Regions from separate parts of the Homo sapiens genome. Here region 2 is linked to region 1. A link means that fine-mapping ties the variant in region 1 to the expression of a gene that starts in the linked region. Tissue or cell type: whole blood. Region 1 holds a variant in brackets; the other region holds the start of a gene. All regions are shown on one strand. Distances are from middle to middle.

The links. PIP is the estimated chance that this variant, and not a neighbour inherited with it, causes the effect.
Region 2: RAD52 starts here. The variant in region 1 is fine-mapped to the expression of RAD52 in whole blood (INTERVAL, PIP above 0.99).

The regions. Positions count from the first base shown.
Region 1 is chr12:924,239-928,625 of GRCh38, reverse strand. RAD52 (RAD52 DNA repair protein) reads left to right here. Exons shown (of 12, transcript NM_134424.4): 6 at 1,363-1,481; 7 at 3,101-3,176. Among named protein-coding and RNA genes, the nearest start is that of RAD52, 23 kb to the left of the region's middle. The variant G/A (reference allele first, on the strand shown) is at 1,750.
Region 2 is chr12:947,975-952,361 of GRCh38, reverse strand. It overlaps RAD52 (RAD52 DNA repair protein), which reads left to right and starts at 2,668. Exons shown (of 12, transcript NM_134424.4): 1 at 2,668-2,760. RefSeq lists enhancers at 2,446-2,715, 2,179-2,837, 3,266-3,345, 2,838-3,496.

The DNA of each region.
Region 1 (4,387 bases):
ATGGAAAATGTATATCTTAATGAGATGGATGGTGCTGTTTTTTCTTTTCAGTTAGTTTATATATCCATATATCCATAACTGAATATTACTTACTTCTTTTTTTTTTTTGAGATGGAGTTTTGCTCTTGTTGCCCAGGCTGGAGGGCAATGGTTCAATCTCAGCTCACCGCAACCTCCACCTCCTGGGTTCAAGCGATTCTCCTGCCTCAGCCTCCCAAGTAGCTGGGATTACAGGCATGCGCCACCCCGCCCGCCTAATTTTTTGTGTGTGTTTTCAGTAGAGACGCGGTTTCTCCATGTTGGTCAGGCTGGTCTGGAACTCACAACCTCAGGTGATCCACCCGCCTTGGCCTCCAAAAGTGCTGGGATTACAGGCGTGAGCCACCGCACCCGGCCTACTTATTTCTTGAATGAACAATTCAGCATTAATTCTATTCTGACTTATTTTTCTAAATAGTACTAAAAAATCTTGTATCTATGAGTGAGTAGCTGAGAATGGAAAGAATTGTGTTATAGTGTCACTCATTTATTTGAGTGCTTTCTGAGTTATTTTTTAAAAATCACAGAGCGCTGTCATCAAACATTGTATTTAATTCTCAATCAGCGAATGATGTGCTCAGGTCCACCTTCTCTTTTGGTGAGAGGCAGGAGCTGGACGCCACCTGATTTACAAAGGGTTTGCTCTCCCGTCCTTACAGACCATTAGATCCAGTGTTCAAATCATCCCTTTGTTTCATATCCCAGAGGTTTTTTTTTTTCCAAGACGTAGTCTCACTCTATCACCCAGGCTGGAGTGCAGTGGTGCAATCTCGGCTCACTGCAACCTCTGCCTCCCAGGTTCAAGTGATTCTCCTGCCTCAGTCTCCTGAGTAGCTGGGATTACAGGTGCCCACCACCACACCCGGCTAATTTTTGTATTTTTAGTAGAGATAGGGTTTCACCATGTTGACCAGGCTGGTCTTGAACTCCTGACCTCAAGTGATCCACCTCCCTTGACCTCCCAAAGGGCTGGGATTACAGCGTGAGCCACCACGCCCGGCCCGGCCATCCCAGAGGTTTTTTTTACCTTAGGGTGATGCACACTGATAGGATTTGGGGTGAGTTTCTAATGTGCCCTTTGTGTGTTGGGAAGTTGGGAAGGGAGGATCGTCTTGACACCTTGACCGCAGGCACATGTCCAGGCAGCCCAGGTCTAGGAAGCAGCACTCGCGATGGATTCTCACCCAGCCTTCTGCCCGTGCCCCTGTAGCAAGGCCGCCAGGTGGGAGAGTCCGGCTTTGAACCCTGCTGCTTGAGGAACAGGGGAGTTGTGGCACGCCTGCCGCTCTCGTGTTTGAGTTCAAACTCCTTTTCTGCCCCCAGGATGGTTCATATCATGAAGATGTTGGTTATGGTGTTAGTGAGGGCCTCAAGTCCAAGGCTTTATCTTTGGAGAAGGCAAGGAAGGAGGCGGTGACAGACGGGCTGAAGCGAGCCCTCAGGTGAGCGCGGGGCTGGGAGTCTAACCTGCGTCATTTCAGCTCTTGCTTCAGAGCAGATTTCGATTTTTTTTGGAAGAGGTAACACATCCACATGGTTCAAAAATCCAAGCAGCGTGGAAGGTAATTCTCACCCCTGCCCTGGTTCCTGTCTGCCGTTTTCCCACTTTCGTTAGTATTTTTTCAATGTTTCTGTTTCAGGCTTCCCTTGCTGGGAGTAAGTGGTAGAATCCTGTACTCTCTCTTCTCCGTGCACTCAGTCATGTGTGCC[G/A]GAGGCCTTCCCACTCCTACTGCGAGTGCACAGACAGCACCCTCCTCTCCGTGCTCCTCAGCAGTCCTCCGCTACGCACAGGTAGCATAGTTAACGTAGTTACACAGTCACGCAGATGTCCGTGTTAGTCCATTTATGTTGCTATACAGGAATACCAGAGGCTGGGTAATTTATAAATAAAGGAGGTTTGATTGGCTTATGATTCTGTGGACTGTACTGGAAGCCTGGTGCCAGCATCCACTTCTGCTGAGGCCTCAGGAAGCTTCTAATCATGGCAGAAGGTGAAGAGGGAACGTGGAGAGAGAGGGAGCAAGAGAGAGAAGGAAGGAGTCCCAGGCTTATTTATTTATTTTATTGTTGTTTTTCATTTTTTGAGACAGGGTCTTGCTCTGTTGCACAGGCTGGGGTGCAGTGGTGCCGTCATCGCTCAGTGCAGCCTTGAACTCCTGGGCTGAAGTGATCTTCCCGCCTCAGCCTCCCGAGTAGCTGGGATCACAGGCACATAACACCACCCCCAGTTAATTAAAAAAAAATTTTTTTTTTTTTGGAGAGACAGGGTCTCCCTTTGTTGCCTAGGCTGGTCTCAAACTCCTGGGCTCAAGTCATCCTCCTGCCTTGTGCCTCCCAAAGTGCCGGGATCACAGGCATGAGCCATCATGCCCAGCCCCCACACTCAAAACCACCAGATCTCTCATGAGCTGAGTGAGAACTCACTCAACACCAAGGGGATGGCACTAAGCTGTTTATGAGGAATCCAGCCCCAGGATCCAGTACCTCCCACCAGGCCGCACCCCCCGGCATTGGAGGTCACGTTTCAACATGAAATTTGGAGGGGATAAACATCCAAACCATATCCGTGTCTTTGAGAATTGAAGTGAATTGAACCAGAAAAACCTATGAGTTCTGTGGGGGAGTCCGTAGATCCCAAGTTAAGAACTCTGGTCATGGGAGGTTGTGCCCTTGAGCCCCCGGTCCCCAAGTGTGTGTTGCCTACTCCTGCTGGGAAATTGGAGCAGCCTTTGGGGGGAAAAAAAAGAAAAACTCTCTGCAGTTTGTTCTCCATGTCAGGAGGTGGCTGGTGGGTTTTGTGAATGGCGCCGTAATCTTTTCATACTCATCTTCTCTGTGAGGGCAGGGACTTGTGTCTTGTCCTCACTGCAGTATTCTCAGAAACTAACACAGTGCAGGAACATGCTAGATGCTTACCAGACATCAATGGGGAATGCATGTTAGGGTCCACTTCCTCTGCTGCTCCTGAGAAGCAACCTGTACAAAAGTTGTAATTCTATTCTCTGATATTCATGTGTAACAATTCTTAACCCTGTTTCACCTTTTTTTCTCTTGCCCTTAGGAGTTTTGGGAATGCACTTGGAAACTGTATTCTGGACAAAGACTACCTGAGATCACTAAATAAGCTTCCACGCCAGGTATATCAGACATGGATGAGTGGAGTGAAGATAATGCGGCAAACTCTTGTGTGTCATGGGTTGAGTATTTGGAGGATGCAAGGAGAAAAAGTGAGGACTCAGCTCTTTAGAGGGTCGGGAATGTTGATTTCAGATTTCGAATGTTAGAGACAGCAGGAACTAATCCCAACATTTTCCTTTTTTCTAAAGTACATCATGTGGGCCGGGGACCGTGGCTCACGCCTGGAATCCCAGCACTTTGGGAGGTGGAGGCAGGTGGATCACAAGGTCAGGAGATCGAGACCATCCTGGCTAACACGGTGAAACCCTGTCTCTACTAAAAATACAAAAAATTAGCCGGGCGAGGTGGTGGGCGCCTGTAGTCCCAGCTACTCGGGAGGCTGAGGCAGGAGAATGGCGTGAACCCGGGAGGCAGAGCTTGCAGTGAGCCGAGATGGCACCACTGCACTCCAACCTGGGCGACAGAGCCAGACTCCGTCTCCAAAAAAAAAAAAAAAAAAAATCACACCATTTGACAAGAATGTGAGGTCTAGAGAATTTGTGTACGTGTAGGTAGTGAACTGTGGTTGGGGGTAGTCTGTGAAGCCTCAAAGCAAGCACACAGCCCTCTGCAGCACCACTGTCCTTCCCAGACACTCCCAGCCTCGCTGTTGAGCCTTCTTTCTTTTCCTTAGTTCTGGTGTCATTACATGTCTGATGTCATTACAATGTCATTTACATGTCCATTATTTCTGTCAATACCTATAACGTGATCTGAGCCTTTGCCTTTGGAGAATGGGGTCTGTGGTGGGGCAGCCCTGGAGTCACACTGCCTTGCCATGAGTGGCTTCTGGAGTGTTCCTCCTGCCTCATCTGCTCTCCGAGGTCCCTGCCATGTCGCTCCCCAGGGCAGCATTCCCATCCTGTGCCTGAGGGATTCTTGTCCTCATGGAGCCCCACAAGGTGTGTGTCACTGGGCATCTGTAAAAACTCCTTTAAAAAAATCATTTTTAAACATTATTGGATTCAGTTTGCTAATATTTTGTTAGACTTTTTTTTTTGAGACGGAGTCTCGCTCTGTCGCCCAGGCTGAAGTGCAGTGGTGTGATCTTGGCTCACTGCAACCTCTGCCTCCTGGGTTCCAGCGATGCTCCTGCCTCAGCCTCCTGAGTAGCTGGGATTACAGGTGTGTACCACCACGCCTGGCTAATTTTTGTATTTTTTTAGTAGAG
Region 2 (4,387 bases), 24 kb before region 1:
TCAGGAGGCTGAGGCAGGAGGATTGCTTGAGCCCTGGAGTTTAAGACAAGCCTGAGAAACATAGTAAGAACCCCTCTCTAAAAAAAATTTTTTTAATTAGCCAGGCATAGTGTCATGCACCTGCAGTTCCAGCACTTTGGGAGGCCAAGGTGGGAGAATTGCTTGAGGCTAGGAGTTCAAGACCAGCCTGAGCAACATAGCAAGACCCTGCCTCCACCAAAAAAATGTTTTTTTACTTAGCTGGGCATGTAGCCTCTGTAATCCTAGCTACTTAGGAGACTGAAGCAGGAGGATCACTTGAGCCCAGGCATTTGAGGTTATAGCGAGCTATGACCGTGCCACTGCACCATAGCCTGGGCAGCAGAGTGAGGTGCTGTCTCTTAGAAAAAAAAGTTTTTCATAAAAAAAAAGAAAACAATATAATATATACAATAACATGCAGGTAGGTAACTTTAAAATACATTTACCCCAAAAATTATGTTTCAGAATTTATAAAATTCAGCTAAAGGAGTTCTTAGAGGAAAATTTATAGTTTAATAGTTTAAATGCCTTTACTTAAAACAAAAAAAGGTTAAAATCATAAGAAACAAAAAGAAAGAAAAGTAAAGTAAACCTAAAGTGAGCAGAAGAAAGGAAGTGATGAAGATAACAATGAAAATCAGTGAAACAAACAAATGGAAAAACAATTGTAGTAATTAATAAAACCATGAGCTGGTTCTTTGAAAAGACAGGTAAAATTAATAAACATCTAGCTGGACTAGTGAAAAAAGGAGAGGACACAAATTACCAAAATCAGAAATGAAAGGACACAACAAAGAAAACAACAGAGTGAGAGAAAATATTTGCAAACCATATATCCAATAAGGGGTTACTATCCTATTCTAAATATGTGAAGAAAGCAAACAACTCATAGCAAAATCAGATCACACGACTAAAAAGGGGGCAAAGGGCACCAGGTGCACTGGTTTACACCTGTAATCCCAGTGCTTTGGAAGGCTGAGACAGGAGAATTGCTTGAGGCCAGGAGTTGTGAAAAGCCTGGACAACATAGAAAGACCTTGTCTCTACAAAAAAATTTTAGATTAGCCAGGTGTGGTGACATATGCTTGTAGTCCCAGCTACCTGGGAAGCTGAGGTGGGAGGATCACTTGAGCCCAGGAGTTAGAGGTTGCAGTGAGCCATGATTGCAGCACTGCAGTACAGTCTGGGCAACAGCTTGATAGCTTGAGACCCTGACTCTTTAAAAAAAAAATCATTTATCAAAAGATGACATACAAATGATCAACAGGTTCATAAAAATGCTCAATATTGGCTGGGCACAGTGGCTCACACCTGTAATCCCAGCACTTTGGGAGGCTGAGGTGAGCAGATCACCTGAGGTTGGGAGTTCGAGACCAGCCTGACCAACATGGAGAAACCCTGTCTCTACTAAAAATTCCCCAGAGGCTGGGGAATAAGGGGCTGGGGGAGATAATGGGGAGATGAAGATGTTGGTCTCAGGGTACAAAGTTAACAGTTAAACAGGAGGAATACAATTTTGAGATTTATTGCACAGCATAGTGACTATAGTTAATAATAATTTATTGTATATTTCAAAATTTCTAAGAGAGTAAGTTGAAAATATCTCGCCACAAAAAGAATGATAAGTGGGCTAGGTGCAGTGGCTCATACCTGTAATCCTAGCACTTTGGGAGGCTGAGGCAAGAGGATCACTTGAGGCGAGGAGTTCAAGACCAGCCTGGGCAACATAGCAAGACCCTGTCGCTACAAAAACTTTTTTTTTTTTTTTTGAGACGGAGCCTCGCTCTGTCGCCCAGGCTGGAGTGCAGTGGGGCGATCTCGGCTCACTGCAGGCTCCGTCCCCCGGGGTTCACGCCATTCTCCTACCTCAGCCTCCCGAGTAGCTGGGACTACAGGCGCCCGCCACCACGCCCGGCTAATTTTTTGTATTTTTAGTAGAGACAGGGTTTCGCCATGTTGCCCAGGCTGGTCTCGAACTCCTGACCTCGTGATCAGCCCGCCTCGGCGTCCCAAAGTGGTGGGATTACAGGCCTGAGCCACCACGCCCGGCCCCAGGGGACATTCTAGAGGGGACTTCGCCCCCCAAGCCGCACTTCTCCATTTCCCTGCGGTCGTCGCTAACCGAAGGCGCCATCCGGTGACGACTGGATGTGCGCGGCGGTGGTGAGAGGCCGCGAGAACCACCAGGTCCACCGCTGCCTCGGCCCGGGCGGAATCTGGGAAGGTCTCTGACAACCATTCATCCTCAGATTTTCCCAATTGTGCATGGGTGGGCGGGCCCCGCATCCTAATGGGCACTGGGCATGTGAAGTGTGAACCACCCGGGCCTAACTAGCCGCTGAAGGCCTGACGAAACCGCCAGGCCCACCAGGGGGCAGCAGAGATCCGACGGCCGCGGACCGAGGGAAGCTGGCGGGAAGTAGGAGGCAGAGGGCGCGCAGGGAAGCGGCAGGGCGAGCGGCTCAGAACGTAAAAGCCAGCACCGCGCCTCCAGGTTGCTTTACGGCTGCCGCAGAAGGCTTTGCGGCTCTTTTCCCCTCCGACTTGATTTACGGTTCCTTCTCTGGTCTGTGTTTTTTTTTTTCCCCCTCCGGCGCTGGGCGTGGGTTCGGACCTTCTTCCCAGAGACGCTCGCGCACCCTTCCCATTCTCCTCTGCGCGGCCTCCATCTAAGATCTCTTCCCCTTGTCCATAGCCTAGATCGAGCTCCCTGTGTGCACCGCGCGCTGCCCGAGGCGCGTAAGTGGGGGAGGAGAGCGGCTTCCCCCGGGGTGGTTCTAGCCGTGGGTGTGGAGCGTGGGAAGGCTCAGCTTCCGGGTCGAGAACCTGGGGCTGCGGTGGACCTGATCCTGAGGTCTCAGCGTAGAGATGCTGAGTCCAGAGGCCTGTTCTAGTTCACCAGTGCAGTGAGGGGCTCAGTATCCGGGCCTCCCGAGAGGTGGGTAGGAAGGCGGGGTACAGGAAACTTGGCACCAACGCGCCGGGACCCCACCGCGGTGCGGACAGCCAGGTGTCCGTGGTGGCGCTTCCTTGGAGATGCTGCCTGCAGACAGGCGTGGGGAATCTGAAGTTTGTGTTAATAGCTAAACGAAGTTGAGTTGCAGGGAGCGGGGGACGCTGGGAAGAAATGATTGATTTAAAAGGAATTTGACGCCGGGCATGGTGGCGGCATGCCCCCATGTTCCCTGGAGGTCAAGCCTGCAGTGAGCCGAGATCGCACCCGTACCACGACACTCCGTCCCGGGCGACAGAGCGAGACCCTGTCACGGGGGAAAAAATAAAAATAAAAATTTGACGCTCACTTTAGCTGAGTATTGAGCCTTGTTATAACATTGAGATAGAGGTCTGGCGCGGCGTCTCACACCTGTAATCCCAGAACTTTGGAAGGCCGATGCGGGAGGATCGCTTGAGGCCAGGAGTTCTACGCCAGCCTGGCTAACATAGCGAAACCCCGTCTCTACTAAAAATACAAAACTAGGCAGGCCTGGTGGCGGGCGCCTGTAATCCCCGCTACTCGGGAGGCGGAGGCATGAGAATCGCTTGAACCCAGTAGGCAGGTGTGCCGGTAAGCCGACATCGCACCACTGCACTCCAGCCTGGGGGACAGAGCGAGAATCCATCCAAAAAAAAAAAAGTTATAATTCACGTACAATTAAATTCACTCCCTTTTTTAAAAAAAAGTGGAGACATAGTCTCGCTCTGTTGCCCAGGCTGGAGTACAGTGGCGCCGTCTCGGCTCACTGCAACGTCCGCCTCCTGGGTTCAAGCGATTCTTTGCTTCAGCCTCTCAAGTAGCTGGAATTACAGGCGCATACCACCACACCCAGCTACTTTGTATTTTTCACCATGTTGGTTAGGCTGGTCTCGAACTCCTCGCCCTTCCAAAGTTCAGGGATTACAGGTGTGAGCCACCACACCCAGTCTAAATTCACCCTTTTAAAGTGTGCAATTCAGTGGTTTTAATATATTCACAAGGTTGTGCAATCACCACTATTATCTAATTCCAGAACATTTTTATCATCCCTAAAAGAAACCTTAAAACCATTAGCAGACACCCATTATTTCCTCCTACTCCCAGCAGCACTAATCTATGAATTTACCCATTCTCAGTACTGTATTATACAATATTTGTTCTTTTGTGTTTGGTTTATTTCACTTCATGATTCAAAGTCCATCTATGTTGTATGTAGCATGTATCAACTTCATTTTTTAAATAACTGAATTATTTATTGTGTGGATATACCACATTTTGTTTCTCCATTTTTGATGGATACTGGTGATTTTCTAGGCTTTCTAGGTCTAGTCCTCCACAGAACTCGCAGTCTGAGGCACAGACATTTAAAACTTAAGTTTTTGGAAACTAGCA